Homo sapiens: one gene and its partners. The protein of the gene in region 3 interacts with the protein of the main gene of each other region in a pairwise test. Each region holds a gene or a part of one and is shown on either strand. Other genes may lie near its edges. The genes, in order: ATP5PF, PRR4, MIEF1 and MAL2.

Region 1 (7,268 bases), on a different chromosome or scaffold from region 3:
TCTTCAGGCCTGGGGTTTTTCGATGACTTCAAATTTGGGATCTAAGAAGAGGGGGAAAAAAGGGTCAAGCTTAGCCAAATTGCAATAAAATGGATTATGTAGAATGCTCAAGATTTAACTCATCAATTTTCTGATTTTTTTAGTAAACACTGTTTGTAAACATTTACATAGAAATATAGCTAAACATTTATGCAACACTTTCTATGAGCCATGCATTCCATTAATTGACTTTGCATATATTATGTCATTTAACTACATATGCAGAAGATACTATAATTCTCCCCAAATGTCAGATGAGGAGACATGCACCAGTTAATTACTCAAGATTACACAGCTGAAAGTGATTATAAGGATTCAAGATTGGGCAGTTCGATTTCAGATCCCCACCATTTAATCACTATGTTATGTGATCTCCTATACTGCTCTTATTCTAACAGCAAACATTTAGCCGGCAGCTTCTCAGGCACACGTCATGGTCCTAATAAATTCACATGTCAACACTGTCATTCAGTTCTCTAAAAATCCAGGTAAGTGTAAATATTCTTCACTTATCCCCCACAAGAATGAATCTGTGATTTATAAGACGTACCTTCAAATTTGAAGGTGGGAAATGTATTCATGTCTGCATTACCAAACATTTGCTTGAGCTTAAAAAGCTCCCTCTCCAGCTCTTGCTGATACTCTGAACTAGCATCAACAGGTCCTCCAGATGTCCTGTTAAGTAAATGAGCAAACAAAAATTAATTTTGTGTACTAGCTTACAAAAACAAAATTACTTTTCACCACCACATTCCAACAGATCTTTTTTTTTTTTTCTTTTTTGAGACGGAGTCTTGCTTGGTCGCCAGGCTGGAGTGCGGTAGCATGATCTTGGCTCTCTGCAACCTCCGACTCCCTGGTTCAAGCGATTCTCCTGTCTCAGCCTCCCAAGTAACTGGGATTACAGGCACACGCCACCATGCCCAGCTAATTTTTGTATTTTTAGTAGAGAGGGGGTTTCACCATGTTAACCAGGATGGTCTCGATCTCCTGACCTCATGATCCGCCCGCCTCGGCCTCCCATAAGTGCTCGGATTACAGGCGTGAGCCACCACACCCGGCCAATAGACCTTTTTAAAGCATTCATGTAGTCAAAGAAAAGACTTCAGAAAGAAAATAAGTATTTCTACTTCAATTTCAATTCAAACTATTTTATTACGATGAGGTTTCACATAAATGAGGTATCCTCAAACCAATCTCTAACATTCAAGGTTTCTCAGAATCACGGACACTCACTAAGTCAGAATTTCTCAGGGTCTAAGTTGCAAAAGGTGTATCGTTAAGTCTACAGGCTCTGGAGTCAAAGACTGGTCCTGTTTGAGTGTAAGTTCAACTATTCAGCAACTGCGTAAACCTGAGTAAGGCACAGAGCACTCTAAATTTTAGTTTCCACAACTAAATATGAAGGTTCTACCAAACGAGGGTGTAAATGCACACGTACCTCTAAGCACAGTGCCTGGCACACAGTGAGTACTCAATTATTATCTACTAATATCATCTGCTTTAAGTCAGCCATCACTAAATGGCTTTTAAAGACCTTAGACTTTTAAGTTTCTACCATAGGGGTCCTATTAAAGAAGCAAATTATTTCCTACCCTCAGAGATTTTGCAATTTCGAAGAAAAAAATTACATGTTTACAAACATTTATGCTGTAAAGGAGTGATGTGATGAGCTTCAAAGACATGATTTAACAAAAAGCTATTCAAGTTGAGGAAGAGATTACTTTTGCTAAGCTAATCAGGGAAAATTTCATTTTAAAAAGGTGGCATTTGAGAAACATCAGGCATCTGGGGCCAGGGTTTATTTTGAGACCTTCTAAGATGGAAAAAGCAAAGACATAGAGGTGGTAAGGGATTGGCTGTATGTGGGGAATGCTAAGGAGTCTAGATGGAAAAACCAGCAGACCCCAGATCATGGGAGGCCCGGAATGTTAAGCCTGGGAGTTTGTATTTTATTTGCCAAGCAATAAAATGACAAAATTAGACTTGTGCATTTTGGGAAAATAAATATAGCATTATGGACCAGCAGCAGGGCCAACTGGGTCTCATTAATTCTTTGAAGAAATTCTTCTGTTTTTGTCATAAATACTACTGCCTACCTAGCAATGAACAATATTCTAAATGTAAAAAAATGTACACATGAAAATTCCTTCAAGGGTAATAACATTTTTACACATGCCTATGATCAAAGTATACAGTCTTATTTAAGTTAAAGAACATGCACAAAAAATACATAGGTGGCTCCAATTTAAGAACTTGTTATCAATATTTCTTGTTAGAGACCCAATTTTCTTTTAGATTAGCACTGTCCAATAGACCTTTTTGTGATGTTAGAAACGCTCTCTGTCTGTGCTGTCCAGTGTGGCAGCCACTAGCCATATCTGGCTATTGAGCACTAGAAATATAGCTAACATGAATGAGAAAATGAGAAACTGAATTTATAAATACACTTAATTGTAATTAGAATTTGAATAGTCTCATGGATAACGGCAACCAAAATGGACACTGCGGTTCTAAATAGATCCTTCAACTAGATACTCTAATACTGGTTACAGATGGATGATGGCTATTTTAACTTTAATATGCACTCTTGTGATAAAAAGAGGCCAGAAATCATCTACCTCCTCAACTGAATGTAAGTCTTGCTGCTTATCTTGCTTATTACTATATTCCTAGGCTCTCACATGATGCCTAGGACAAAGCAGTCACTCAGAAGATACTTGTTCATTTCACTAGCAAATACTAGGCATGCTAATGTATTGAATAATTTAATTTTTATAATATCCTATGAAATGGGTAAGTACTACCATCATCCTCCTTTTACATATGAGAAAACTGTCCTACAGAAGTTAAACCTGCCCAAGGTCATAGAGCTAATTAGTGGCAGTGCTGGATGCCAGCCCAGGGTCTACCCTCAGAACTCTCCATGTGTTTGTTTGCACAAACGAATGAATGACCCACAAACAAGACTCCTTAGATATAGGGTACACCTAAGAATTCACTTCTTACTAGATAGGCTTTTAAAGACAGTTAAAATGATGCAAACAGCATCAATACTCTAATATAACACCACATTTGGACAGAAGACACTCAAAATTCCCTGACGAGTCCTGCACATCTGGTTACTTAACAGTATGATTTTTGGCAAATTCTAACTTTCAGCCTTGGTTTTCTCATATATAAAATTGGGGTAACATCTATAGGGTTGTTGTCAGAGTTTCATTACCATGTCTACAAAGCACAGAGTAACTTACTACATTTTAATCCCTTCACTATTTCTCCTCCTCAGTTTTGGCAATGGTAACACCTTTGTTAGTTACCTCGCCTCAAAAGTCAGTTTTCTTTTATTGTTCCCTCTTCTTCCTCTCCAGCAGCTCACCAAAACCAGGCATCAGTGTTTCAATGTCTTGACTCTGTCACTTTTACATTACCACTGCTATAAAGTCAAGGTTCTCATCAACTAATGCTTAGGTTACATTTTGCTAACATGTCTGTCTTTGCTCTCTTCTCATTTCAATCCTTCCAATACCCTGGTTAAAATTATCCTCCTAATTCAGAGTAATCTTCCATCCCCACAGTCATGTTCAAAAAGCTGTAATTTCTCACAAATGCCTACCACATATCTTACTTGCTCAGTCTACAATCAAGGCCTTCCATAATCCCTCATTCTAACCCCATACCATCCTTATACTCTTCATATACCCTATACTCCAGGGAAATAGAATTATACCATTCACCAAATATATTTTGTGCTTTCTAGCACAAACTAAGGCATTTTCATGCCTTAGTTCACACCATTCTTTCCTCCTAAAAGATACTCTCCTCTTACCCTCATTTATCTGTCCAACCTTCATACACTGATCTTTAAAACCTAGAGTAAACCCCTGGGTGTACAGGTCTACTGAAGGCCTCCTGTGGGTTTGAGAACTGTTTCATGCTATAAGGAAAATGATGTGAGTAAATTCTTCACGTTTTTTTCTTTAAACTGGGAAGATGATCCACAGTTGTCCATGAGATTCTCAAGAGGGATGAGTACCCAAACACTGCCTTCCAAGAAGCCTCTAAAATGCCTCTAGCTGGAAAGGAGTATTCTTTCCTATGAACTCCCCAAGCACCCAGCGTTTCCCTACCTTAGCACCTAACTCATTTTACCTTATATTGTATTTATTTGCTTAGAAGCTTTCTACTCCTATCGGACTTTAAGAATATTGTAAAAATGCCCTGTGGCCCATCACGGTTAATAGCCAAGTGCTTTACACACAGTAGACAACTATATGAAAGAAAATGGAACTATGAATTGGTGCGCCTCACTGTTCCTAAGATTTGGGTTTGGACCTGATGACAGCTAAGGTGGTCATTCCTTTCCAAAACTATGGTTCTACAATTGTTTTTCTTGGACTTACATTATGTCATTTCAGAGTCTTTTGTCCTTTAATATACATTCTCAGAGATCTGTAACTATGGAAATAGCCTTTTAAAAAAAAGAGCTGTGTTTATACATTTCCCCCAAATTACAATGTCACAGAAAGGCCACTAAATTGAGGCTAAAATATACTTTGATAATATATTTTTCCCCAATTAGTTTTATGATCTTCGGCTAATCAATGTCTAAGGGAGTTACTTTTTTCAAACTTAGCTGCTAAATGATTTCCAAGACCCTATGTATTTCTATAAATTGATGTGGTTTATAATACATGACATGACAGTAAGAATGTATTTTAAACAGCAATAAATTTAGTAGGATTTTCCCTTGTAACTCATATAAAGATACAGTTTCTGACTTAAAAAAATCAAGATCCTTATCTTCTTTTTTGAGGGCACCTAATGAACCTCTATGTCAGAGATGAGCTCAGTGAAGGTCTAATACTTTCAAATACCAAGTCATTTTTATTACCACCTTGAAACTTACATACTTTGAATATTTATATTTACACTGTAGTTATTTATTCACTTACTGTCGCTTAGATTTGTATTCTCTAATCTTGTCCACAAAGAGTTTCTGTATAGGATCAAGTTCCTTATTAAATGCCACTGCTGTAACACCAATGTTCCTCCGCAAATGGACTGAGACGGCTGACCGAATGACAGAGGAGAACCTGAAGAGCCTCTGAAGAATCATGCTGATTCTGTTACAGAAAACAAGCAGCAGAAACGTTAATATACTTATTATAAATCACCTCTAAATATATCATGAGAATCAAATTCTACTAATTGCTACAGAATTACATCATATCAGATCTCAGTCTATACCTGACCACAGTTCCCTTCTCCTCCTTATTCCCCATTGCAAGTTTTTTAGGTCTTAACCAAAAGGCTCTGGGATAATGGAACAGTTAGAAACTCAGGCCTGAAGCTTCATCAGGGTTAGAGCACAAAATGTGAGGTGAGGTATTTCTTCCCCCTTGAACTTAGTCATGGATCAGAGAAAACAGTAGAGGTAGACTGTTGCAACACTGTCCGCTCCTAACAGGAAAAGTACACTGGCCCCCAAACTAATGTACAAGGTTTCCCATACCTCAGCCGGGCATGACAACCTGAAAATGTGTACTTCACAGGCCCACAGAGGGAGAAACTGCTCTGCCTGTTACAAATGGATTCCAGCCATTTAAGAATACTGTAACAACTAAATCAAAGTCCAGAAGAACCAGCAAAGAAAAACAGCAGCCAGTCCAAATGAGCTGTGCATGACAGTGGGGAGGATCCGGCAGTCCAACTTTATCAGTGAAATAAATTGGTGAAGGAGATGGAAGTCTGAATTTTAAAAATAAGGACTTATGGCCAGGTGCAGTGGTTCACGCCTGTAATCCCAGCACTTTGGGAGGCTGAGGCTGGTGGATCACCTGAGGTTGGGAATTTGAGACCAGCCTGACCAACAAAAAGAAACCCTGTCTCTATTAAAAATACAAAAATTAGCTGGGCGTGGTGGCGCATGCCTGTAATCCCAGCTACTCAGGAGGCTGAGGCAGGAGAATTGCTTGAACCCAGGAGGCAGAGGATGCAGTGAGCCGAGATTGTGCCATTGCACTCCAGCCTGGGCAACAAGAGCAAGACTCCGTCTCACAAAAAAAAAAAAAAAAAAAAAAAAAAAAAAAAAAAAAAAGACTTAAAGACTTTCAAATCCCTAGACTTCCTTAAGCTAAAATATATTACTTTCTAACTAAAACATTTCAGTAGAGGACAATTCCTGTTGAGATTTACTTTAGTGATTTAAAGATCAAATGCAAAAAATAATCCAAATTACAACAAATAGGTACAAACAGGAATTCTAGAAGAAAAGGAATAAAGAGGGCCAGGCACGGTGGCTCATGTGTGTAATCCCAGCACTTCAGCCCGAGGCAGGTGGATCACTTGAGGTCAGAGGTTCGAGACCAGCCTGCCCAAAATGGTGAAACCCTGTCTCCACTAAACATACAAAAATAAGTCAGGCGTGCTAGCGCGTGCCTGTAATCCCAGTTATTTGGGAGGCTGAGGCAGGAGAATCACTTGAACTCAGGAGGCGGAGGCTGCAGTGAGCCCAGATCACACCACTGCACTCCAGCCTGGATGCAGGGCAAGACTCTGTCTCAAAAAGAAAAAAAAGGAAATGATTAAAAGAGACCATAAATAATTAGTAGAATACATTTTTCTCAGATTAAGGCCGAGTCTATAAACTGACAGGGCTTGCCAAACCCCATATTGGAACGGTGACAAAAGGCTCACAATGCACCACAGCCTGGTACAATTTCTCAATCTTTTTTTTTTTCAGACAGGGTCTCACTCTGTTGCCCAGAATGAACACGGCTCACTACAGCCTCAGCCTCCTGGACTCATGCAATCCTCCCACCTTAGCCTCCCAAGTAGATGGGAGCACAGTTGTGTGCCATCACACCAGGCTAATTTTTACTTTTTTTTTTTTTTTGTAGAGACGAGGTCTTGCCATATTGCCCTGGCTGGTAAAATTTCTGAATCTTCAAGTGAAAATCTGATATGCTAACATGTTTCCCATGCCCTCCCCAAATTTCCTAATAGCAATACTGTCATCATCACATTGACACCGGACTTCTACTAAGTTATAATAGGACTAGTGGAAGTATACAAACTATGTTATTGGTCTAAAGTAATATAGAAATTAGATATAAGTATTTAGAGGCCAGGCGAGGTGGCTCATGCCTGTAATCCCAGCACTTTGGGAGGCCGAGGAGGGAGGATTGTTTGAACTCAGGAGTTCAAGACCAGCCTGGGAAACATGG
Region 2 (7,940 bases), on a different chromosome or scaffold from region 3:
CAGGGATGCACGTCTACAGATAAAACCCCATGTGAAGATACAGCAAGAACCGGCCATCTAGAAGTGAAGGAGACAGGGCCTCAGAAGACACCAAACCTGTTGACACCTTAATCTTGTACTTCAAGCTCCAGAACTATGAGAAAGTAAATTTCTGTTGTTTAAGCCACTTGTGGGGCATTTTTTTAGGGTAGCCATAACAAATTAGTATGAAGGAGAGCAGGTTTTAGGAAGTAGAAATCAAGAATTATATTAGGGGTATGTTAAGTTTTCATCTGTTGTAAAAGGCAAGTGGATTGCTGAGAGTGTCCACTCACCTACAAGTGCCTAAGCTCCTGCTGCAGTCCTGCTTCTCGATTTGACCCCACCCTCACTCACTGACAGTGTCTGTTTCAGCTCCTCCGTCACCTCTGTTGTGGTTGTGTGTGGTGAGATCATAGCTGATGTTTATTATTTCCTGATACATTAATCTCTTTCTCTCATTGCTTACACTGGAGAATGTCAGGGTAAGGGTCTGAGCTGAGTGATATTTGCAGGCATCACCTGTTGTCTTCCTGCACTCACCAGCCAAGGAGAAGCCTGCCTTCCACCAGGACTGCAGTTTCCTCAGCCACCCACACAGTGAATCATGTCTGCATGGCACGCCCCTCTGCTCCTTCTCGCTGACCTTCCTTTCCTACCTGATGGTCTACCATAAGCCACCTAGGCAGAACTACTTATCTCCACTTCCCATGTTAAACAGTGTCTGGTGAAATCAGAGGCAGCAATCCTAGTAACACAGCTGGGTCTGTAGGCCCAAACAACTACTCTCTCTCACCCATAAAACCCTAAAGCACAGCTAGAACTCTTCTGCTTCCCACATAGAGAAGAATTGCTAACTCATAATATATTTCACCTTCAAAATATGTCCATAATTATGCCAGAGAAAATATTTATTTTTTGGTCACTTTGCCAAAGTAAAGTTATCCATAACAAACACCATTGATTAGAAAATCTTCCTGTAATATTACCTCCAACCCTTCAGAATTGCCAGACCAGACCTTCATCTGCACAGCACAGGATCCACTTATCCACAATGGTCAAGAGGCCTGTCTTTAAGATTTCCAGTCACATTCCCCCGACCCTGTCATACTTCCAACCAAGCTATCCTCAAATTATCACCAGCCCTGTACAAAAATGTAACAATAATACGAGACCTATACAATGCCTGTAATGAAAAGTGGCAGCTGGTGATACTGATTGATCTAGGGGTTCCATGAAAATATAAGCAGAAAACTACTAGATAGGACAGAAAAATCAGCAGGTGAAGATTAAGCTACCAACTCAGGACCCTACCAAACTTTTCAGAAACACAAAACCTTGGTGCCAAATTTTAAAAACAAAAAAGAAGAAAGCAAGCAAAGAGAAGTACAGAACCTTGTTTAGAAAATCAAATAAAGATTTCTCCCAGAACGCATGAAGAAAGCAGTAAGATATAAAACATAGACATAGGGAGGATTGATTCACAATATAACATATCAACAAGTAAGGTTCAGCACAAGAGTGAAGAAGAATGAGTATAAGAATATTGCAGAGAAAATAATCTTTGGTAAAGGCAATCTGAGAAGCAAATAGAATGGAAACTAATTAAAAAATAGAAAATCAATGTAATACTTGAGGCTTTCAACAGGCTATCATACTATCTAATTAGATTGTATTATTGTGTCCACTCAATAACCAGTGTGATTAAAATATTTGGTACAAGAAGTAAGACCTAAACTGAATCATATAGAACATTCTAGAAAAGAGAAAGATCATGGAAGAAGTCTTAGGGACATAAAATAGCATGGCTTGTTCAAGGAACTGTGTATTCACACTGTTCTGATGCAGAAATCTAATGGTGCTTTCTGTGGCCAATTTTGCCTTACTAACCTCCAGGGTATTAATAAAGATAGAATGTTTTAATACCTGTGTTCTACAACAATAAAGTATCTCTGGTTAATGCTAGATTAGGAGAATCTTAATCTCTTTGGGCCAGAGTAGCCTGAGGGTAAAACTTCTGTCATCCACGTGTGCCCAAGTGTGTGTTGTCCTCACACAACTCAACATTAAACAGAAATGATCTCTATATTATTATGAAATTAAGCTACATATCATCCATATAGGTATATATGCTATAAAAATGGAATTTATGCTACACTAATAGCTAGAGATATTAATCATTTTCACTTCTGGCTATAAGATCACTGCTGACAAACATATACAAACGTAAGCACGTGTGCACACAGACAACCAATGAAGGGGAAAGACTAACTGTCTAACCCAATTGAAAATCAAATGATGACCAAACTTCAATTGTAGTATTTGTGCTGATTGCTTGGATACTGTTTCTTCAGAAACTATGCTCAAGTCACAGTTTGTACCTAACCACATCCTACCACCACATCCTGCTGGGCTAAAATCCCAAAAAGTAATAAGAGACGCATTCAACTTTATGAGAGGAAAGCAAAACCTAATCTTTCAGGTGGTGAGGTCCACCCAGTATGGAGCTCAAAGGTGCCATTGTTCTGCTCATGTTTATAAAGGGAGCTGCCATGTTTCTCTCAACGCAGAGTTGGGAGCAACTCCAGAGCCTCCTTCAAGATGCTGCTGGTCCTGCTCTCAGTGGTCCTTCTGGCTCTGAGCTCAGCTCAGAGCACAGATAATGGTAAAAAAATTATTTTTTTAAAAAAGGAGATGGGGAGTGGGATGAGGGGCCATGACTCTTCTAGGGCCTCAGGGGTTCACCCTACACCACTGCAGCGGAAGAGCAGGAGGGGAGGAAGGAGGTTGAGAAGAAGGGTAGGGCTTTGGAGCTCTCATTCCAAGGATGACATCTGTTGTGCCCTCATTCCATGCCAAGGCCTTATACTTTATTTGATATACACTTGGAACCCAATAGAGAATTTCAATTAGAGGAATGACAAAGTAAGATTTGTATTTTTAGAAAGACCTGGCTGTGCTGTGAAGGATGCAGTGGAGAATGCAAGACTGATCCAGGGAAGTCCAGCTATGAAGATGCTACAGTAATCTCAGTGGACAGCGATGATGGTGTCCTTGCTGTACAGGGGATGCAGAATCAATGAAAGAGATAAACAAACATCAGAGTACTGTCAGACATAGAGGACTGGATAATACATTTGTGTCTTTCTACATAGTGGTATAGAAATATCAGGTCCCCAAATTCCCATTTTTCTTCCAATCACATTTAAAATTTCAATATGTTGCAGGCAGCATGTGTAAGATTATATCCAAATATTTACTCCTGGTTGCTCCTCTTGGGCAAGCTTGTGAATATGATCAAAATATTTAAAGAAGGAAGAAGGTAAAGATCTAAAATATGACATGAAAATACCCAGAGAAGTGTGCCTAAATTAGCATTAGGGTTTGAGGGATCCTAAGGATGACAAAAAGGGACTCTTCTATTGAATTCGTGGTTGATGCTCAGCGATAGTAACAATCCTGCCTCCCCTAACATCTTCCTCCCCTTCCAGCAGCTTCACAGAACATGGTTGATGAGGTAACTTAGGGGATGCACAGGGTGTGGCCAGAAGACCCCTTTCCCTATAGACCACTATGAGCCCTGAAAGATTTATGAGGTAATGTTCACTTCATCCTGTGCTTCTTTTCCTAGATGTGAACTATGAAGACTTTACTTTCACCATACCAGGTAAATCCCAATGATCCTCAATCCAATTCTTTTCTTTCTTTTTCCACTAGAATTTCTTTTTAGTTTCCTTCAGTGTCTTCTTCTCATCATTTTTTTGGGAGGAGGTGGTAAGAGGGGTCAGGCATTGATTAATATTAGTGCCCCTAAATATATAGGCAATTCTTACCCATCTTTGATTCTGGGGACCATGAGCCAGGCCACCAACTTGAATACAGAGATGCCTGGCTTTGAGGACAATAGGAGTGGGCAGGCTTTTTTCCCAGGCTGGAATGACTGCTGAGAGATGATGAACAAATGAGAAGTGTTCTCATTCTGACTCCTCCATCCTTAACTGCTTCTTTCTTCCCCCAGTGTTCCCCCGCACGGTTATGTGGCTTCAGGGAGTAACACAAAACAAAACAAAAAAATCACTGCATGAATGTCTTTTCTCTGTGTTGACCCACTCAGCTGTGTCACTACAGATGATAAATAGTTGCCACAGCTGTTTAGTGATCATGTGCAGGCTTTCACATTGTCTTTCTCTTCTGTCTCTTAGTATTTCTCTACTTGGTTCCAGGAGCCTGGGAAATCAGCTCTAGTTTCCACATAGGGCTTAGGTGCCCAGAGATGGAGTCACAGTTTGTAAGTCATTACAGCAACCAAAAAATAAAAATAAAAAATAACCAGTAACATAACTGAAAGCTATAATGCTTTTGCTTTTTTTTTTTTTTCTGTCCTTGGAGACATCCTCTGGCAACTCTAAGATATGCAAGAACCCCTCTTTTCATTTAAGGAAACATACTTGTCACAGGAGCAAATAAATGAGACTTTCCATATCACTCTTACATGGATTAAGTTGAGAGCTGCATAAAAAGAAAAAAAAAACAGTGGGCACAAAAGAAGTTGACAGTCAAGCAGCAGGTTTGGGGAGAACAGGGCTGTGTGGTAAGGTGAGAGAAGTATAAAGAGAGGAGAGTTTTTCTTCACTGAGCTCATGCATTCTTGTCCATTAATTACTCACACAGATGTAGAGGACTCAAGTCAGAGACCAGATCAGGGACCCCAGAGACCTCCTCCTGAAGGACTCCTACCTAGACCCCCTGGTGATAGTGGTAACCAAGATGATGGTCCTCAGCAGAGACCACCAAAACCAGGAGGCCATCACCGCCATCCTCCCCCACCTCCTTTTCAAAATCAGCAACGACCACCCCGACGAGGACACCGTCAACTCTCTCTACCCCGATTTCCTTCTGTCAGCCTGCAGGAAGCATCATCATTCTTCCAGAGGGACAGACCAGCAAGACATCCCCAGGAGCAACCACTCTGGTAATCTAGAATTCAGTGGCAGGTATGATTCCAGTTCATTCTCCATTAAATGCCCAAACTGCTACCATTCCCAAACTTTATCGTGTTCACAAATCAATTGGAAATATGTTGAAATTACATAATCCTGGACCCCATTTCTAAAGATTTGTATTCAGATATTCTTGGATAAGGTTGCAAGTCCTTGTATTTTTAACAAGTGGTTCAAAGAATTCTTATCTTTTGAAATACTGACCTCCCCAACTTTTTTCTTAAGATGACTTGTCTCATTAAAATGAGTTGGTAATGAGGAAGTGGGGTGTGCTCTCCCTTTGGTGCTCTGCCTCCTGTCTTTGAGTCTGCCTTCTCAAACCCAAGGACTCTCCATCTCAGGTTTCTCTCAGGTTTCCGCCAGAGGACTCTTTGCTCAGTCCTGCCTCACACTAGCCTCTCAGGTCCAGTGTCCCTGCTAAATGATACTTGAACTTGATGCTCTTATATCTTATTTAATTTTTAAAATACTTATTTTGAAATTAGTACATGCTCAAGGAAAAAAAAATCTAACTGAACAGAATGGTATGAAGCTAAATCTTAAAGTGACGCCTTATCCTACTTACCCACACCCTTCACCAAAAGTCACCACCCTTAATTTTTTGAACATCCTCCTGGAAATATTTATATGTATATAAGCATACGTCATTATTTTTCCCACAAATGACATATTATTTTATATGCAGATCTGTATTTGCTTATTTCAAATAATACATGTCTTAGACAACTTTATCATTTCACGGAGACCTATAGATCTTCTTGGTGATTTATTTGTACATTTTTCTTTTGTTGTTACAATTGTATACTATTCTCTTGTGTGACTGTACCATGATTTCCTCAGTCAACCACTGTTAATTGATATGTAGGCTTGTATTAGTTTTTCACTACTACAGGTTCAAGTTGCAGTCATTTTCATAAATATAACCTTGAATGTTTTGAACAGTAACCAAAACATAAACACCATAAAAAAATCTGTTTTCTTAATCTTGAAAGCAATAATTTACTTCAGTAATATCATCAAGGAATTAGATAAGTTTTGCCATGTTGTATGTTGTGTATAAATTTCCTTGGTTTTTTTTTTTGTTTCAGAAAATAAATAAGAAGATAACTTCCTTCAGAAAGCCATGACATTGAAATAATGTGGTCATAACTCTTTCTTCAGTATACCAATAAAATATTAATAGCATGCAATTTCTGATTGTTGCTTCTCTTTGTGGGTGTTTCTGAGTCTAGAATTTGAGGGCCATTAATACAATCTAAGAATATCTGGGACTCTTGCTCATTGATGCTTCCAGCAGGCTTCCCTCCTCCTTTATCTTAATAAAGCCAGCTGCCAAGGAGAAAGAGTTCCATTGTTCCCCTTCTGTCCTAGATTGCATAGCACAAATGCAAATTCTTAAAATTATTTTTACATCTTTCATTGATATTCTTGTAACTCTAGGAAAACAAGGAATATATAACAAATGAGAGGGAGTTGCAAGTGCTGGGGAATTCTTAAAATTTCCAAAACTATTAATCCTGGTTTCTAGGGGCATAAATGTAGTTCTAGATCTCTTCTCTATAAAACTCACTATGCTCTTTTCTCCTCTTTTTTCATTGCTCAGCTCTCTTCCTCCCTAAGTCGTTCACCATTCTTTTTAAAAACTTGAGTGGATTTCATAAAGGGTGCAGCATAATGTACTTTAAAGGGCAAGAAATTTGAGTAAAACTCTGTTCTGATTGTAAAAATTCCAGCAATATCAGTATTATTGTCAGATAATATAGACTACCAAATTTAACTCAAGTTGCTGAGGCAAAGTTGAATAGAAAATAACCCTAAGAAGCAAAAGAATTTGATATGTAACTGTCTCCAGCTACCTCTCATTATCACCTCCAATGTCGCTGAATACAGAAAATTTTAATATCTAATCTTTATCATTAAAAAGCACATAATTCTTTTTTAGATTTTTTAAGTACAGGAAACAACAAGTTTCTGAATTCATTCTGAGTTTCATTAAACAAAATATATAGGACAGCAAGGATACTCTGTTAGGGAAACTATTCAATAGTACATAAACAAACGAACAGTATGCTAAAAGAATAATAAACCACGTTGAAAGAGGATGAGGATGTTAAAGATGGTTCAATATTAGAAAATTGGCCACACCATATCTGATTTTGATGATATTTAGATAAGACTTTGGATTTAGATTTTAAAGTGGATGCTGGAATGAGTTAAGACTTTGGGATTTGGGAGATGAAATAAATGTACTTAGTATGTGAGAAGACCATATATTTCGGGGGATGACCAGGGACAGAATGCTATAGTTTGAATGTTTATGTCTCTACAAAATAAATTTATGTTGAAACTTAATTCCCTATGCAATAGTATTAAGAGATGGAGTCTTTGGGGGAAGTGACTAAGTCGTGTGGACTCTGCTTTCATGAATGGGATCAATTTCCCTACAAAAAGAAGCTCCCAAAGGCTGCTGAGCTGTTCCATCTCTTTTGACATGTAGGGACTCAATGTTCATGTTTCTTTCATACTTCTGCCTCATGAGAGAGAAGCCAGGAGAAATTGTCTGTTTGGAATGGGCTCTCACTCAACCCCAAATCTGGTACCATCTCAATCTTCAACTTTCCAGCCTCCAGAGCTATGACAAATCCATTTATATTATTTATAAATTACCCAAGATAAGATATTTTGTTAATAGCAGCTCGAACTGGCTAAGGCAGAGGGCTACTTACAAGAATTAAATGCATAATATATATAAAATTACCTTATAAAATGTATATAAAATTACCCTACAAGATGTATATAAAATTACACGATTTAAGTCTTGTAAAATGCAACATGTATACAAAATTACCCTACATGACATACAACAATAAAAGTTCAATACATTTAAATTTATTTATTCTTTTATTAAAAAAGACTCGTTTT
Region 3 (7,133 bases):
GAAGCTCCGGAGCTCGGCACATATGTCCACAGCAGCTTGCTTGGCCCGAGCCTGCTCTCCAGCAGGGATGGCTGCCCGGTTCCGGTAGTAAGTAAGAAGTTTCTCCTGCAGGGACATGCGGAGTCGTGACTTCTTCAAGTCTACCTGGCCCTTCCTGGCCACTGGCTTGGGCCGGGGCGGGCAGAATGTATCTGCCAAGGCAAGAGAGAGAGGCACGTGAGCTCTGCCCATGCCTGCTCAGTCCACAGCTGCCTCAGCCCCAGAAAGAAGGGCCTGGCATGGAGGGCAAGTGCTGGCACAGTGCCTGGCACAGATGTGCTCAGGAAACATCTGCTGAGTGCAGGAGTGGTACTGAAAGTCCAGAGAGGTCCCAGGAGGGGCAGCAGCCCTTCTCACCTGTGTCGAAGGTGGAGGAGTCTGTGGGAAGGGTCTGCAAGGACCGGCTCAGGCCCGTCTTCATGTCCCTGTTCAGCAGTCGTGGGGAGCCCATCCAGTTGGGTTCTTCCCAGCTCCTTTTCCCCGAATGGCTCAGGCGGGTGGGGCTGGTAGGGGCACTGATCGCCCGATCGTACATCTGAAATAGCAGAGAGGACACAGGACATAAACCTGCCCTCTTTCCCTATTTCCTTCCAATTTACTTCCTCCCCAGAAGCTCTGTCCTAGTAAGTTCTTTTAGTAATTTTGTTTTTATTTTAGATTATAGAATACTTTGCTCCACGCAGAAAATCTCAGGGAAGACTACATGATATAAGACATAGATAATCCACGTCATGACCCAGAGAAAACTGTTTGTAATATCTGGTATGTTTCTTTCTAGATGCATGTAATGACGATCACTCTATACATACTTTTGAAACCTGTTTTTTTCACTTATCATTGCGATCATTTCCTCCTAGAACGCTTCGACATTTTCTTTCTATAAAACATTACATCTTATGACCATACCACTACATTCCACCCCCAGCCCTGGCTGCATGCACTTACCCGCTTAACTGCCAGCGTGGCGATGCCCAGCATGGCCGCTCCACCCACCCCCAGCACCAGCCGGGCATTGGAGAGCACAAAGTCAATGGCCGTGCCAATGCCATTGTCATCCTTCTTGCCTTTGCGCTCACCAGCGCCTGCCATTGCTCATCTGAGAATGAAGACAGAACACGGCCATAAGTACTGGGACCCCAAGAACCTCCCTCCCCTAACAAGCCAAACCCCAACAAGTACAGGGTACTCTGTGAGTTCCAGCAACCCAAATCTTCTTGCCTCCAGCACTGCATGCTTTAGGGTCTGGAGGGAGCTACAATGTCCCATGATAGATCAGGATGCAAGGAGGAGGGGCTGATCTTGGGTATTGTAGGAAAACTTTCCCCAAGCTAGTGAGATTAAGAAAGCATTAAGCTCAGTGTCAGTCCTTTTTTGTATTACAATGAAGTACCCCACCATGCAAAACAGCCCTCTCTCTGCCCCTTTACAATGTTAAAATGCAGGTCTCTACCCCTTCACAATGTTATAATGCAGGTCTCTACCCCTTCACAGGGGTTATAATGCAGGTCTCTACCCCTTCACAGGGGTTATAAAGCAGGTCTCTACCCCTTCACAGGGGTTATAATGCAGGTCTCTACCCCTTCACAGGGGTTATAATGCAGGTCTCTCTACCCCTTCACAGAGGTTATAAAGCAGGTCTCTCTACCCCATCACAGGGGTTATAATGCAGGTCATTTCTTCGTCCTTTGGCCACTACTTTGTGGAAGGTTAGATCTGAGCGGGACCTTGGAGCTCATCTAATGCCATCACATCACCTCACACAGAGGTTCTCAACATAGGGAGGTGATGTGTCAGGTCTCAGAGAAAAGAAATGGTACAGGCGCAGTGGCTCATGCCTATAATCCTAGCTACCCGGGAGGCTGAGGTGGGAAGATCGCTTGTGGCCAGAAGTTCAAGACCAACCTGAGCAACATGGCAAGACCCCCATCTCCAAAAGTAAAAGATAAAAATAAATTGAGCATGGTGGCACATGCCTGTAGTCCTATCTACTTAGGAGGCTGAGGCAGGAGGAATGCTTGAGCCCAGGAGTTTGAGGCTACAGTGAGCTATGATCACGCCACTGCACTCTAGCCTCAGTGACAGAGTGAGACCCCATCTCTTAAAAATAAAAATAAAAAAACAAAATGGGCCGGGCACGGTGACTCACGCCTGTAATCCCAGCACTTTGGGAGGCCGAGGCAGGCGGATCACCTGAGATCAGGAGTTCAAGACAAGCCTGGCCAACATGGAGAAACCCCGTCACTACTAAAAATATAAAATTAGCCAGATGTGACAGCGCATGCCTGTAATCCCAGCTTCTCAGGAGGCTGAGACAGGAGAATCCCTTGAACCCGGAAGGCGGAGGTTGCAGTGAGCCGAGATCACACGATTGCACTCTAGCCTGGGTAACAAGAGCTAAACTCCGTCTCAAAAACGAAAACAAAACGACACAGTCATCTCCAGAACTCAGGACTCCCCACTCCTTGTATGACGCTTTTTCTACTGTACCATGCTCACCCTTACCCAAATCAAATCGGCCCTTATTCTATCTACTTTCTGCAAACAAAACACAAAACAACATGTACCAAACATCCTGCACACGGAACTGAAACTACACGTCCATATGTGAGAAAGGTCCCTCCATGGACCCTCCTACTTGACAAATGCTTTGTTTCTTGAGAGAAGTGCGCAGCGGGGACTATAAAAGCTTAGGTGAGACTGGTATACCGGGAGATAAAAAACACAAAGGACACTGCAGACTCGACTGCTAACTGGAAAACAAAACACCCATCTGCTCGATTACACCTGGAAGAGGAACTAAAAATGTGTTCACCTGAAAGAAGTACTTGGGCACCACAGCGAAGAGGCTGGCCTCCAGTGCAGTGCTCAGGCCAGTGCTGCTCCCGACTACAGTGGAGTCTTCCTGACTGCAGCAGCAGCAGTCCCCAGATAAGCCCATTCCTGTGGAGTTAGAACCCTGGGCCTGAGCCGGATAAAGGATGACAGTGTGATTCAGATCGGAATACCACTCAGCATGCTGCCACTCTCCTCTATAATATCCCGTGTCCTTCACACCAGGAATGACATAAGGGAAAACAAAGTCGGATACCATTTAGCGTCCCAGAATGGGAGGACATCAAGAGACAGGATCAGCCGGGCGCGGTGGCTCACACCTGTAATCCCAGCACTTTGGGAGGCCAAGGTGGGTGGATCACGAGGTCGGAAGTTCAAGACCAGCCTGGCCAACATAGTGAAACCCCATCTCTACTAAAAATACAAAAAATTAGCCAGGCATGATGGTGCATGCCTGTAATCCCAGCTACTCGGGAGGCCAAGGCAGGAGAATCACCATTGCACTCCAGCCTGGGTGACAGAGCAAGACTCCGTCTTGAAGAAAAAAAAAAAAGGATCACTGAGGATTATCTTCCATGTAAAATAACATTCCTTCTAATACCGTGTTACAAGTGGATATTTCTAGCTTCCACATCTTACGCTCCTGCCTCTACCTCCCTGAAAAACAAAGAAATATTTCTGACTCTATTATTCCAGTAATTGAGTTAACTAAGAGTCACTGTCAAGCCCAAAAATATTTTTTTCCCTAACTAGAGTTCACACCTTGGGGGTACTTTCCTTTTCTCTACCATTTACAGTCAATAGAGGCTTCAGGTTTAGGGACATGAAAGACTATTTCGCCAAACCGAGTACATTCCCACCTCAAATGCACAGAGCAAAGCCAGGGAGAAGAGATAACGTTTGTATTTACAGGTGGAATCAGGGAAGAACAGCAGACACCCTCTCTCCAGTGGCCACTGAGATAGAGACGGGACAAACCAAACTTAGCAGAGGCAAGATAACCCAATCAGGAGAAAAGCAGAACACTATACATTTCCCCACACATAACAATGTCTCTTGTTTTAACTCTTTACTGAAATATTTACAATAGGGAGAGCCACTGGACACATGTGCCCTCTAAATGATCCTTGAGTGTGATGCAGCAGGGCCAGAAGGGCACCTCCTCACTCAGGGCAGAAGCAGCCTCCCTGGACCATTTTAGTCCTTGGTGCCCTTCTGATGACTGGTGAGAGCAAGGTGGTGCTACAGATGACAGAACAGAGCGTGGGTTTTAGAGTCAGAAATCCTGAGATACAGAACTTGCCTTGAGCCCTGACTTATTAGCTGGGTGACCTCAAATGAGTTACTTAACACCTCAGCTACGAAAAGGGGATAATGGTCCCCGCGTGGGACCAAATCACAGGGTTGTAGTGAGGAAAAACCATTCACTGCAATCCTGTATGTGAACGGTATAAACTGTATTGCAGTGGATGGTCTATAAACTGTAAAAGTGCTCCACAAATGAGTTCTCCTCTAGTCTTTTAAGATTTCCATCCACAGGACAAAGGTCAGCTTCCAGAAGTCAGTCAGCAACCCAGACTGTCCTCTGAGTGACAGTGCACCTTTTGAGACTGCTCTAAAACGGCCTTGAAAATTCGCAGTGATGCCATCTTGGACTTGAGATCAAAACTATTTTTTCTTTTTTTTTGAGACTGAGTATCACTCTGTCACCCAGGCTGGAGTATAGTGGGGCAATCCCGGCTCACTGCAACCTCCACCTCCCAGGTTCAAGTGATTCTCCTGCTTCAGCCTCCCTAGTAGCTGGGATTACAGGCATGAGCCACCACACCCTGCTAATTTTTTGTATTTTCAGTAGAGACAGGGTTTCACCATGTTGGCCAGGCTGGTCTCGAACTCCTGACTTCAGGTGATCTGCCCACCCTGGCCTCTCAAAGTGCTGGGATTACAGGCGTGAGCCAACAGCTGAGATCAAAACTATTAAGTTGGGCCAGCTTGTTAAGCCTTTTCGGCCGGGTACGGTGGCTCACGCCTGTAATCCCAACACTTTGGGAGGCCAAGGTGGGCAGATCACGAGGTCAGGAGATCGAGACCATCCTGGCTAACACGGTGAACCTCTGTCTCTACTAAAAACACAAAAAATTAGCCAGGTGTGGTGGCAGGCGCCTGTAGTCCCAGCTACTCGGGAGGCCGAGGCAGGAGAATCGCTTGAAGTCGGGAGGCAGAGGTTGCAGTGAGCCAAGATTGCACCCACTGCACTCCAGCCTGGGTGACAGAGCAAGACTCCATCTCAAGAAAAAAAGGCTTTTCCTACTGTAGTGCAATAGGCACCCCCCGCCCACCATCCAAGGACGGACTGACATCACAGACCTGGTGACCTGGAACAGAAGACGGCATCCACAAGCTCAACAGACAGACACGGACCTTACTTGAAAAGTTAATTCAACTTGTTCCAGTTTAAACTGCTTCTCCATGACACGCTCTCCACTCAGGTTCTGCTGCATAAGCTTACAGCCTACTAGCAGGTAAGAACTCCACCTCCAATCGGGACTGTCATGAAGGAACCCCATTGCTTAATGGGTACAGAGTTTCAGATGTGCCAGATGAAAAGGGTTCTGGGGCTCTGTTACCCAACAATGTGAATATACTTACTACTACTGAACTGTACACTTTAAAATGGTTAAGATGGTTAAAATAAAAAACAAAGAAGGAACACAGACCTGGTGGGCAGAACTAGGGATGGAGAATTTCAGCTCTGCCAATATTTCAGGCAAGTTATTTAACCTGTCTCGCTAGATACAAAAATGGGAACAGAAATGCTCATCACCCTAATATAGTTAAGGATGATGAATAATGGAGGCCTTGCGGCTTCCTAGGATGACAGCACAGAAGTGTGAAAGTTCCAACTTATTTTAATTGAAAAAGCCATAGGCCTTTTTATAAACCTATCTTGCTTGAGTATGTACGAGACTAGGTAGCAGATATTGAGTGTGTATTATGTGCTGGCAATTTTACACTTATTATTAATTCCCTCAATCCTCACAACAACAATCCCATGAGATCAGTAATATTATCCCAAATTTAAAGGATGAAGAAACTGAGTAGTTTCTGTAACTGACCCAAGGTCACTGTGTCAGTAAAGTATGTGACCAAGATTTGAACCCTGAGATCACGCGGTGCGGAGAACTAATCTACAGGGGTCCTAGGTACTTGCTCCACACCTTGTTCCCATCTCCACTCCATTAACCCCCAGACCATATGCTTCTGGGGGACATTTGGGCTCATTCACTGCTGCATCCCCAGGGTGTGCAGTGTTTGATGCATAGGGAGTATATGTTGTGGGAATGAAGTATTAACTCTACGGCGTTTTGTTTCTTGGTTTTTTTGAGGGGGTAGTGATAGCAGCGTGTAGCCCAACTCACAGCCAAAATATATTAGGAACACAAAGATTTCAAGGAACGCCCTAATTCCCTCCTAGATCCGCTAGCCAACCCTCCCTGTGCAGACAGGCTCCCATGGGCATCACCCCACCCCTGGCCCTGTACTGCCAAAGGCAGATATGCCAATCCTAAGTGGCTGAGAAGAACCAAAAGTCATTACATAAGGCTCTCTTCCTACTTTCCCTCCCCCAGTTAAAAGCAGCACCCTCCACCCAGCTGGCAGGCCTTACACCCAGTTACTCTTCATCTTTCTCTCTCCTCCTCCTGCCTCAGCCAACTGATCACCAAGTCCCACTGCTGTACACACTGTGTTTATATGTGGCCACCCCCACCCCTCGGTCCCTCAATCTGATCTGGCTACATCCACTGCCTCTAGTATCTCTCATCAATTTATTCTTCACACTGCCACTGGTATGCTCCCTCTACGATACAAATGTGGCTATGTCATTCCTCTGTTTACAGAGCTGTGATGGTCCCCACATAAGAAGATATACATTACAATCTCAACTTGGAGTCAACGTCCTTCCAGACCAGGCCCAGCCTCAACTCTGGCTATTTGCCTTACAGGGGTACCATGCTGGCCACATCAGACTTAAGTTTCCAGACTACAAAGTGCAGTTTCTGGACAGGCAGAGCTGTTTGAACCTATAATCCCAAAGCTTTGGGAGGCAAGGGTGGGAGGATCGCTTGAGGCTAAGAGTTTGAAAGCAGCCTGGGCAACATAGCAAGACCGTCTCTACAAAAAAAATAAATAAATAAAAAATTAGCTGAGCACATTGGTACATGCCTGGCGTCCCAGCTACTCAGGAGGCTGAGAAGGGAGGA
Region 4 (7,268 bases), on a different chromosome or scaffold from region 3:
AAGGAACTGAACTTCACCTAAGGGCGATGACAAAGCCAAGATCATCTTGAGCAGAAACTAGCATGGTCAAGATTTGCCTTTAGAAATTTCTCTCTGGCTAGAATGTGAGAATGGACTGGGGAGGAAAGGGTGGATGGTGAGGCAGCACATCTCTGTGTTTCTCAGCTCTATCAACACAGAGATTTCACAAACATTGGGTAACACAGGAGACTGTTAGACCAACAGAGTGTAAGAATCAGAACACTGAGGACAGAGAGAAAGGAATGGATTAGAGTGAAATTTAGAAGTAGACATGATAATAGTTGGTAACTGATCAGATGTGGGACACAACAGAAAAAGGACAGATAAGGAAAATACCCAGATTTCTGGAATGGGCCTCTAGGCTTGAGAGAACACCGCAGGAGAAATGGTGTGAAGATGAGTTTTATGCATCTATCACCATTGGTCTCCTCCATACTACCATGCCTGGCATTCCAAGCCATTTGTGATCTGACATGTCTTTTTCATCCTTGTCTCTTGCCACTATGCCCCTCACATTTTGTATTAGGGGGAGAAAAAAAATCCACAGTTCCAAGACAAAGATCTTTCACATCAGAGTGGCCTGTTACTTGCATGCCGTGAATGTCATTCCCTCCCTATGTGTACTTGAGATTCTCCCACTCACATCTAATCTTGAGCACATCATTTACAACATTTTTCCTGAGATCCACCCCTGCTCAGTTATGCCTCCCTCCTCTGGGCAACCTCCCTACTGGGCTTTGTTACATCAGTGAGATACACTGTAATTAAATCCCTTTGGCTCTCCATCTGCACTACCAGGCCTTCTTGGCAGCATACTGCTTTATATGTCTCTGCATCCCAAGCCATTTATTAATCTACACAGTAATCCTTTCCTAACCATCAGTCAGGTACTATGCTAGATTTGGCAGCACAAAACCTTAGGCTACATACCTGCCCTGAAGACACCTCAAGCAAGTGAGAATCAATCTCTCTCTCTCTCTCTCTGTCTCTCTCTCTCACACACACACACACACACACACACACACACACACCCAGGGAGAGTGATAGAGCACGCTCTTAAATTATTTGCTTAGTAAACAAGCTAGTGCTCATGTGAGAACAGTTGGAGCTCCAAATATTAAAAATCAATACTCATCTGTACATTGCATTTCAGTATCTAGATATCCAAATTACTCCACAAGTCACTGAAAGTTAAAAACACAAGTTTTAATTCAAGCTTCAAGAAAAGGCCCAATCATATAATTTGTTACTACTTTGAAGAAACATTTTTGAAAGCATAAATGATCACTTGATCAATGATAATCAAATCACCAGTCTAAAAAAATGTATAGTTGTGGTGTATACCTCAACTCCTAAAGTCAAATAAAAAATTAACAATTGATCCAGAAAGTGTTATGAAATAAATCTAATGAATATCAGTGCATCTTAAACATTTAACCACCACCTTATCAGTGCCTATAAAAGAAAAAACTTGTTCCTAATATTATTTACCTTTACATACTATTAAATAAATATCTGAAGGCGATATAAGTATGTCTTCAGTGGATCAATCTTTCCTTTTTTTCCACTTTCTTCTTTCTGGTAGTCTTTTCTTACTCTCCCACAAAGAATAACCTACATAACTTTAAATACAGTTTAAGAAATATACATTAAGTATCTCTTCTGAGTTATTTCCTGAGAACCTATGTGCAAATATAAAGGATAATAAAAAGCAATTGGCCACTGTTTGTTAGGGACAGGCAGAGCCAAATAGATAAACATAATGAGTTAGGGATGATGATACATTCACACCTCTAAAGAGGAGGCTATATGATCCTTTGGAATTCAACACAGCATTTACTAAACCCAGACTGGACCTCAAACAGGCCAGCCCCGAACCTACTGCTAGGTACTATAGAAGAACACTCAAGAAAAAACAAAAAAGGCAAGGTTCCATCTCCAGGAGCTTGAAATAAGGAAGAAATAGACACTATTAAACTGATTCAGGAGCAGATTGCGGTGGGTGCTATAAAAAGAGCTCAACACAGTGTGTTCTGAGAGGCTGGGAGGGGAGAGGAGAGAAGAAATATAATGGGAAGAATCTGGAAAGGTAGGCAGGGGAGGCAGGCTTCAGAGTAAGCTTTCAAGACAGACCAAGGCTTTGACAGCAGAGGCTATACTGTAAAATAGTATAGACTAACCGTTCTTATCGTACTCAAAATTACAGCCCTTCAAACACCTCAAAGGCTTGGAAGGGAAACTAAATGCTGCATGAACAGGAGTCAGATTCACCTCCTCACTTGTGGGGTATGTGCTGCATGGAAAGGGGAGAGGGAAGGAGTGTAGGAATGCCCCCTCTCTCTCACTCAAGTAAATACATATGATACATCCCTAGAGCTGAGATTCTGTGAAATCCAGGCTCGCTTTGGAAGAGAGAGGATGGGCCAGAGAACATAATTGAGCCCACTTTGGAGGGCCACCATCCTCATTTTGAGACTGTCATACTGGTGTATGGATCACTCTGGCCTTGACACAGTTATTATTCCCTACTTTGTGATTTCCTTTTGACAAAAGCTACTTTTCTTCTTGAGCTTCCCAACTTGGCTCCAACTTAAACTTGGCTCCAGTTTTTTTAAGTTAAAAAACTGAACTTAAAAAATTGAGATGACCAATGCTCAGTATATTCACTTCCTCTAATTCCGGGCATTAGTGAGCTTAGAGTGTTTGCAAAACGGTGTAATTATCAGCATTCCTGTTCAGTAGAGACGACTCTGGAGGTGGCCATATTTTTAGAAGTAAAAAGCAGAACACAAAAATGGTTAAATCTGACAGAGAACAGATGATAAATACAGTAGCAACTGCAGAGTACACACTGTGAAGAAAGGTATTCGGAACTATTATATGTTTCGCCCACGTTATTCTCATCGTCTTGGATCTGAATCCATATTCTGACCCCTTCCCTGCCACTGCCTTCCACTGCTTTCTAGTGTTCTAAAAAATCCAATAATTATGTATAAAATAGCCAAAGGCACCTCAATTTGAAATTTCTTTAAGAAACTAAGTCAGTGCTTATGACGTCAAACCTCAAGCTCTAACAAAAAGACTACCTTTGCTTCCAGGCAATACAAAGGTAAAAACCTCCTAGGAGTAGGTATCAGCATCTCCCGGTGACTCAGTCACCTTTTATCTTCTTAACCCAACTTTAGGTGTACTGGGTACATACCAGAAGTACTCAAATATATTCTGAGTTGCAGTTATTAAATTGCTACACATTCCTAAAACAACTGATCTTCTTTCTGGTTTAACACATGTTTGTTATGTTTGCTTGGTCTCTGCAGACCAGAAAGGTATGACTTGGCTGAAACCCTACCATAAGAAAACCACGGAAGTATTTATCCACAAATCACACTAAACTGAATCCTCAGGGTTTGATGTGAAGACATGTTTTCACTAGAAACTGTGGAATGGGAAAAATACATAGTCCCACGGGAAAACATGCTCTTGAGCAAGTAGCAACTCTTGCAATTCTGGGTGCATGAATTACAGATTCTTAACTCATCTCCTGTTTGGACGGTCTTATGTTCCCAAAGGGTTCCTTTTGCAAATGCCCTTTTTCTTTTCAAATGTCACTTATTTCCTAATTACCTGCTTTTAAACATACCCTCTGACAGCTAAAAATTTTTTCAAACCAATTTGACACCTCCATCTTAGTATACCCACAAAGTAAACCGGCTAATTTCTACTGTGACCTATTTTCAATTAATGTTTGGAATGAGAACAGGAAAAGGTAAGTGAATTTGAAAGGATAAAGGCTGGCTAAACTACCCATAAGGGAAAACACTATTTAGAACTTTCCGTATTAAGCTCCCTCCTTCTAATTCTATTATCTATATATTGGATAATTCATTATTCTACTGCAGTGAGAATGAACACCCAGCAAACATAGAGGAAAAGCAAAAAAATATTTGTCTTCCAGTCTGGCTTGTAGAGTTAGAGTAAGAAGTTGAAGCTAATGGTGATAGCAGAAATAGTACTTAACATTTACTGAGCTCTTATGTTATAAGCACCGTTATAAGGGTTTTATTTGTGCCAATTTAATCCTCACAGACCTTGAGAGACAACATTATTATTCCTACTTTATAGGTAAGTTAATTGAGGTACAAATCCATTCATAACTTGTTCCTAGTTATATAGTTAATAAGTGTTAGACCTGAAATTTGAACTTGGCAATTGGCTTCCAGAACTTATGATTTTAACATTCTGCTATTCTGCCCCTCTCATGGTTTAGTGTTCATTCTAAAGCAGGGTTTCTACCCATATTCCATATGATTTCCTAAAATCATATAAAATTGGGTGGACAAGTACATATGCATTTTTCTGAGGACACAGTCCACACCTTTCATCAGAATCACAAAGGGGTATGTGGCCCCCCCACCCAGAAGTTCAGAACACTTTATCTACTTGTAACCCCTTCTATTTTAATGGATGTTTACTTATGGGGTGCTGCACAGGAAACATCATGGTTATAGAAGTGTTCAGTATATTCAGAAATTTATCAGCTAGAAAAAAAAAGATTATCTACAATTAGCTATATTTTACATACAATTCGCATTTTGAAAGATTTCCTTAAACTAGAAACATACTTAGCCAACACATACAATATAACTGGTAGATGTATTTACAAAGCAGCCCACACAAGTATGGATTCATTCACAATGCGACTGTAGATCACTGGTACCACTACAAGGCATACTGCTGCCCCCCTCCCCAAGCTCATCATCTTCCCTGTAATGCTTCTTTTCCTACCACCCTCTCTTTGCATTCCAGCCTCTACCCCTCATCCCCTGAGCATAGAGAAATGATCACACTTGACCATGTTTCTGCCTAGCATGCTGCCAGTAAAAATTCTGCTGCATAACTAAACTCCAGTTACCATGTTTTCCAGAAAGACTTCCCTGGCCAGGTGCCATCCCTCGGTGCTTCCACGGTTACTGACGCGTGTATTCTCCACAGCAATTACAACTGGATCAAAATCATGGATCTACATGCCCATTTCACCCACTAGACTGTGACGTCAGAGTCGGTGACATTGCCTTCAACATCTCCGTATGCTCATTACCCAGGGTGGTGCTTTCTACAGAAGGTCCTCAATCCATCCTCCTTGAAATGAATGGAAACCAACCGGCATGTGTAATGAATGGTTCCAAAAGAGAATGCTCTAGGAGTGCAGCTTGGGATGCTAGGAACACACTCCGGTCTGGAGCCCAGCTCACTCCCTGGTTCATGGTGGATGTCCAAAAATAGGCATGAAAACGAGTGAAGCGAGAATATGTACTTCTCAATTCTCAAGTTATTATTGGTGACACCCACCACCTAGTACCAGATCTCAGGAGGCTGAGATGGAAAGTTATGGGAAACTTTGTACCTCTTGCCAGTTGAATTCATGACACCCAATTTTAAATCTTTTTTCGGCCCCAAATTTGCCCACATGACCTATTTCTATTGTAACTGCCACTGGAACTTTTGACCAGGGTAAATCTTGTGCCTTCTTCCAGTGCCTCCTGCTCCCCTCATCAGTCCCCATCTGTCCTCTAACCATGCTGACTTCTGTCCAAACTGCTTCTGGACTGGCCCTGGCATAGACCTGCATTAGAGATGCAAGGCAGCAAGGTGTTTATTTATTTAGTTAGTTAGGAAAACAGAACAAATTCTGGGATGTAATGAGAAATGACATACACATAAGAGGCTTATGACCAAAATACGTTAATACTCATTGCAAAAGAAGTTCTACTTTTTAGCTTTACATTTGAAGGCTTTAAAAATATGTCTGAGAGTGCTATAGAGAGTTATACTTTCTTCCTCCCCATGTGACCTAAACCTCCAATTCAGCTGCTTAAATAGCTGACACCGACCCTAAAATGGAAAGCTCATATTACAGAGGAGAAATATGTTCTGGTTCTTTTTATTCTTCTTTATAATAATTCCTCTCGATTTTGAAAATTCCCTTTTCATGTTTGCAGGTAACTAGTTATCACTTTTAGTTTAAAGCTGTTCCTGCGTGCCAATGCCCTGATATTGGCCAGACCCGTATAAATCACTGCCTCTTTCCTTTCTTTTTACCTTCCTCCTTCTCATAGCTATTATACAGAAGTTGAGATTGTTATATATGTTGTCTATAAAAGGATATGGTACTCTTATATAAAATAGAACACTTAGGAAATTCAAGTTAAAGTGCAGAAACCTGGAGAAGAATTATGGCAGTTTACATGTTGGGCAAGATTTAAGAGGGCATCTACTCCCAAGCTGCCCTTCTCCACTCCAGCCAATGTCTCCAGACTATTTTCACATACTGCTCAGTTTGTACTATAGAACAAACAAGTAGCATTTGTTAAGTACTGCATGTGCATGATACTGGGTATGCCAACCTGGTTCCTGTCCTTTGTCATTACAGGGTCATTTCTATTCAGCCATATCACTGCAAATACACCATGTCCACAGCTCCTACCACCACGTACAACATTTCTATCAGGCTCTACAAAACAAATCTCTTCTCTATGACTTTTTCCTTTGGAGCTCAAGGTGAATCTTTTCAGCTACTTGGTTTAAAGTTTTCCATATTTCAGTTCTTCGTATTTTTTTTTAAAGGACTGCCAGTCGGAGCAAATGATTGTTGATAATAATCTCTGGCAGGGGCATTGGTTTATTTTCCCTTATGAAACTTTAAAGGTTATTTATTTATTCATTTATTATTTTGGGGATGTAGTTTCGCTCTTATTTCCCAGGCTGGAGGGTGATGGTGCGATCTTGGCTCACTGCAACTCTGCCTCCCAGGTTCAAGCAATTCTCCTGCCACGGCCTCCCAAGTAGCTGGGATTACAGTCATGTGCCACCACACCTGGCTAATTTTGTATTTTTAGTAGAGATGGGGGTTTCACCATGTTGGTCAGGCTGGTCTTGAACTCCTGACCTCAGGTGATCCACCTGCTTCAGCCTCCCAAAGTGCTAGGATTACAGGCATGAGCCACTGCACCCGGCCTAAAGATTCTTTTAATGTGGATGAAGATTTTTAATCCAGAGGCAAAGGAAAAAAAATACCTACAGTTTTAAAACCCATTTAGGGGACAACTATGTCCATGGACAGCTCCCTCTTGCACACTGCAAATAAGCAATGTCCCTTCACAGTCAACATTTTCCAGGCAATAAACTCTATACATCAGAACATATACATGTTACTAGTCCAAAGTCAAAGCTCTCAGTTGAAAATAACC

Evidence for each region.
Region 1: the proteins of MIEF1 (region 3) and ATP5PF interact in binary tests that used the Homo sapiens proteins (3 or more experiments, as listed by UniProt).
Region 2: the proteins of MIEF1 (region 3) and PRR4 interact in binary tests that used the Homo sapiens proteins (3 or more experiments, as listed by UniProt).
Region 4: the proteins of MIEF1 (region 3) and MAL2 interact in binary tests that used the Homo sapiens proteins (3 or more experiments, as listed by UniProt).

The regions. Positions count from the first base shown.
Region 1 is NC_000021.9:25,724,637-25,731,904, forward strand, and holds part of ATP5PF (ATP synthase peripheral stalk subunit F6, mitochondrial isoform a precursor), read right to left. Parts: intron 5,166-7,268; coding exon of another isoform or gene 5,159-5,165; coding exon 4,995-5,158; intron 715-4,994; coding exon 590-714; intron 42-589; coding exon 4-41; 3' UTR 1-3. UniProt on the Homo sapiens protein: Subunit F6, of the mitochondrial membrane ATP synthase complex (F(1)F(0) ATP synthase or Complex V) that produces ATP from ADP in the presence of a proton gradient across the membrane which is generated by electron transport complexes of the respiratory chain.
Region 2 is NC_000012.12:10,844,117-10,852,056, reverse strand, and holds PRR4 (proline-rich protein 4 isoform 2 precursor), read left to right. Parts: upstream 1-2,581; 5' UTR 2,582-2,619; coding exon 2,620-2,683; intron 2,684-3,649; coding exon 3,650-3,685; intron 3,686-4,689; coding exon 4,690-4,994; coding exon of another isoform or gene 4,995-5,012; intron 5,013-6,106; coding exon of another isoform or gene 6,107-6,113; 3' UTR 6,114-6,208; downstream 6,209-7,940.
Region 3 is NC_000022.11:39,505,290-39,512,422, reverse strand, and holds part of MIEF1 (mitochondrial dynamics protein MIEF1), read right to left. Parts: intron 3,002-7,133; exon of another isoform or gene 2,852-3,001; intron 1,136-2,851; 5' UTR 1,129-1,135; coding exon 985-1,128; intron 575-984; coding exon 397-574; intron 192-396; coding exon 1-191. UniProt on the Homo sapiens protein: Mitochondrial outer membrane protein which regulates mitochondrial fission/fusion dynamics.
Region 4 is NC_000008.11:119,213,305-119,220,572, reverse strand, and holds part of MAL2 (protein MAL2), read right to left. Parts: intron 5,951-7,268; exon of another isoform or gene 4,946-5,950; intron 1-4,945. UniProt on the Homo sapiens protein: Member of the machinery of polarized transport. Required for the indirect transcytotic route at the step of the egress of the transcytosing cargo from perinuclear endosomes in order for it to travel to the apical surface via a raft-dependent pathway.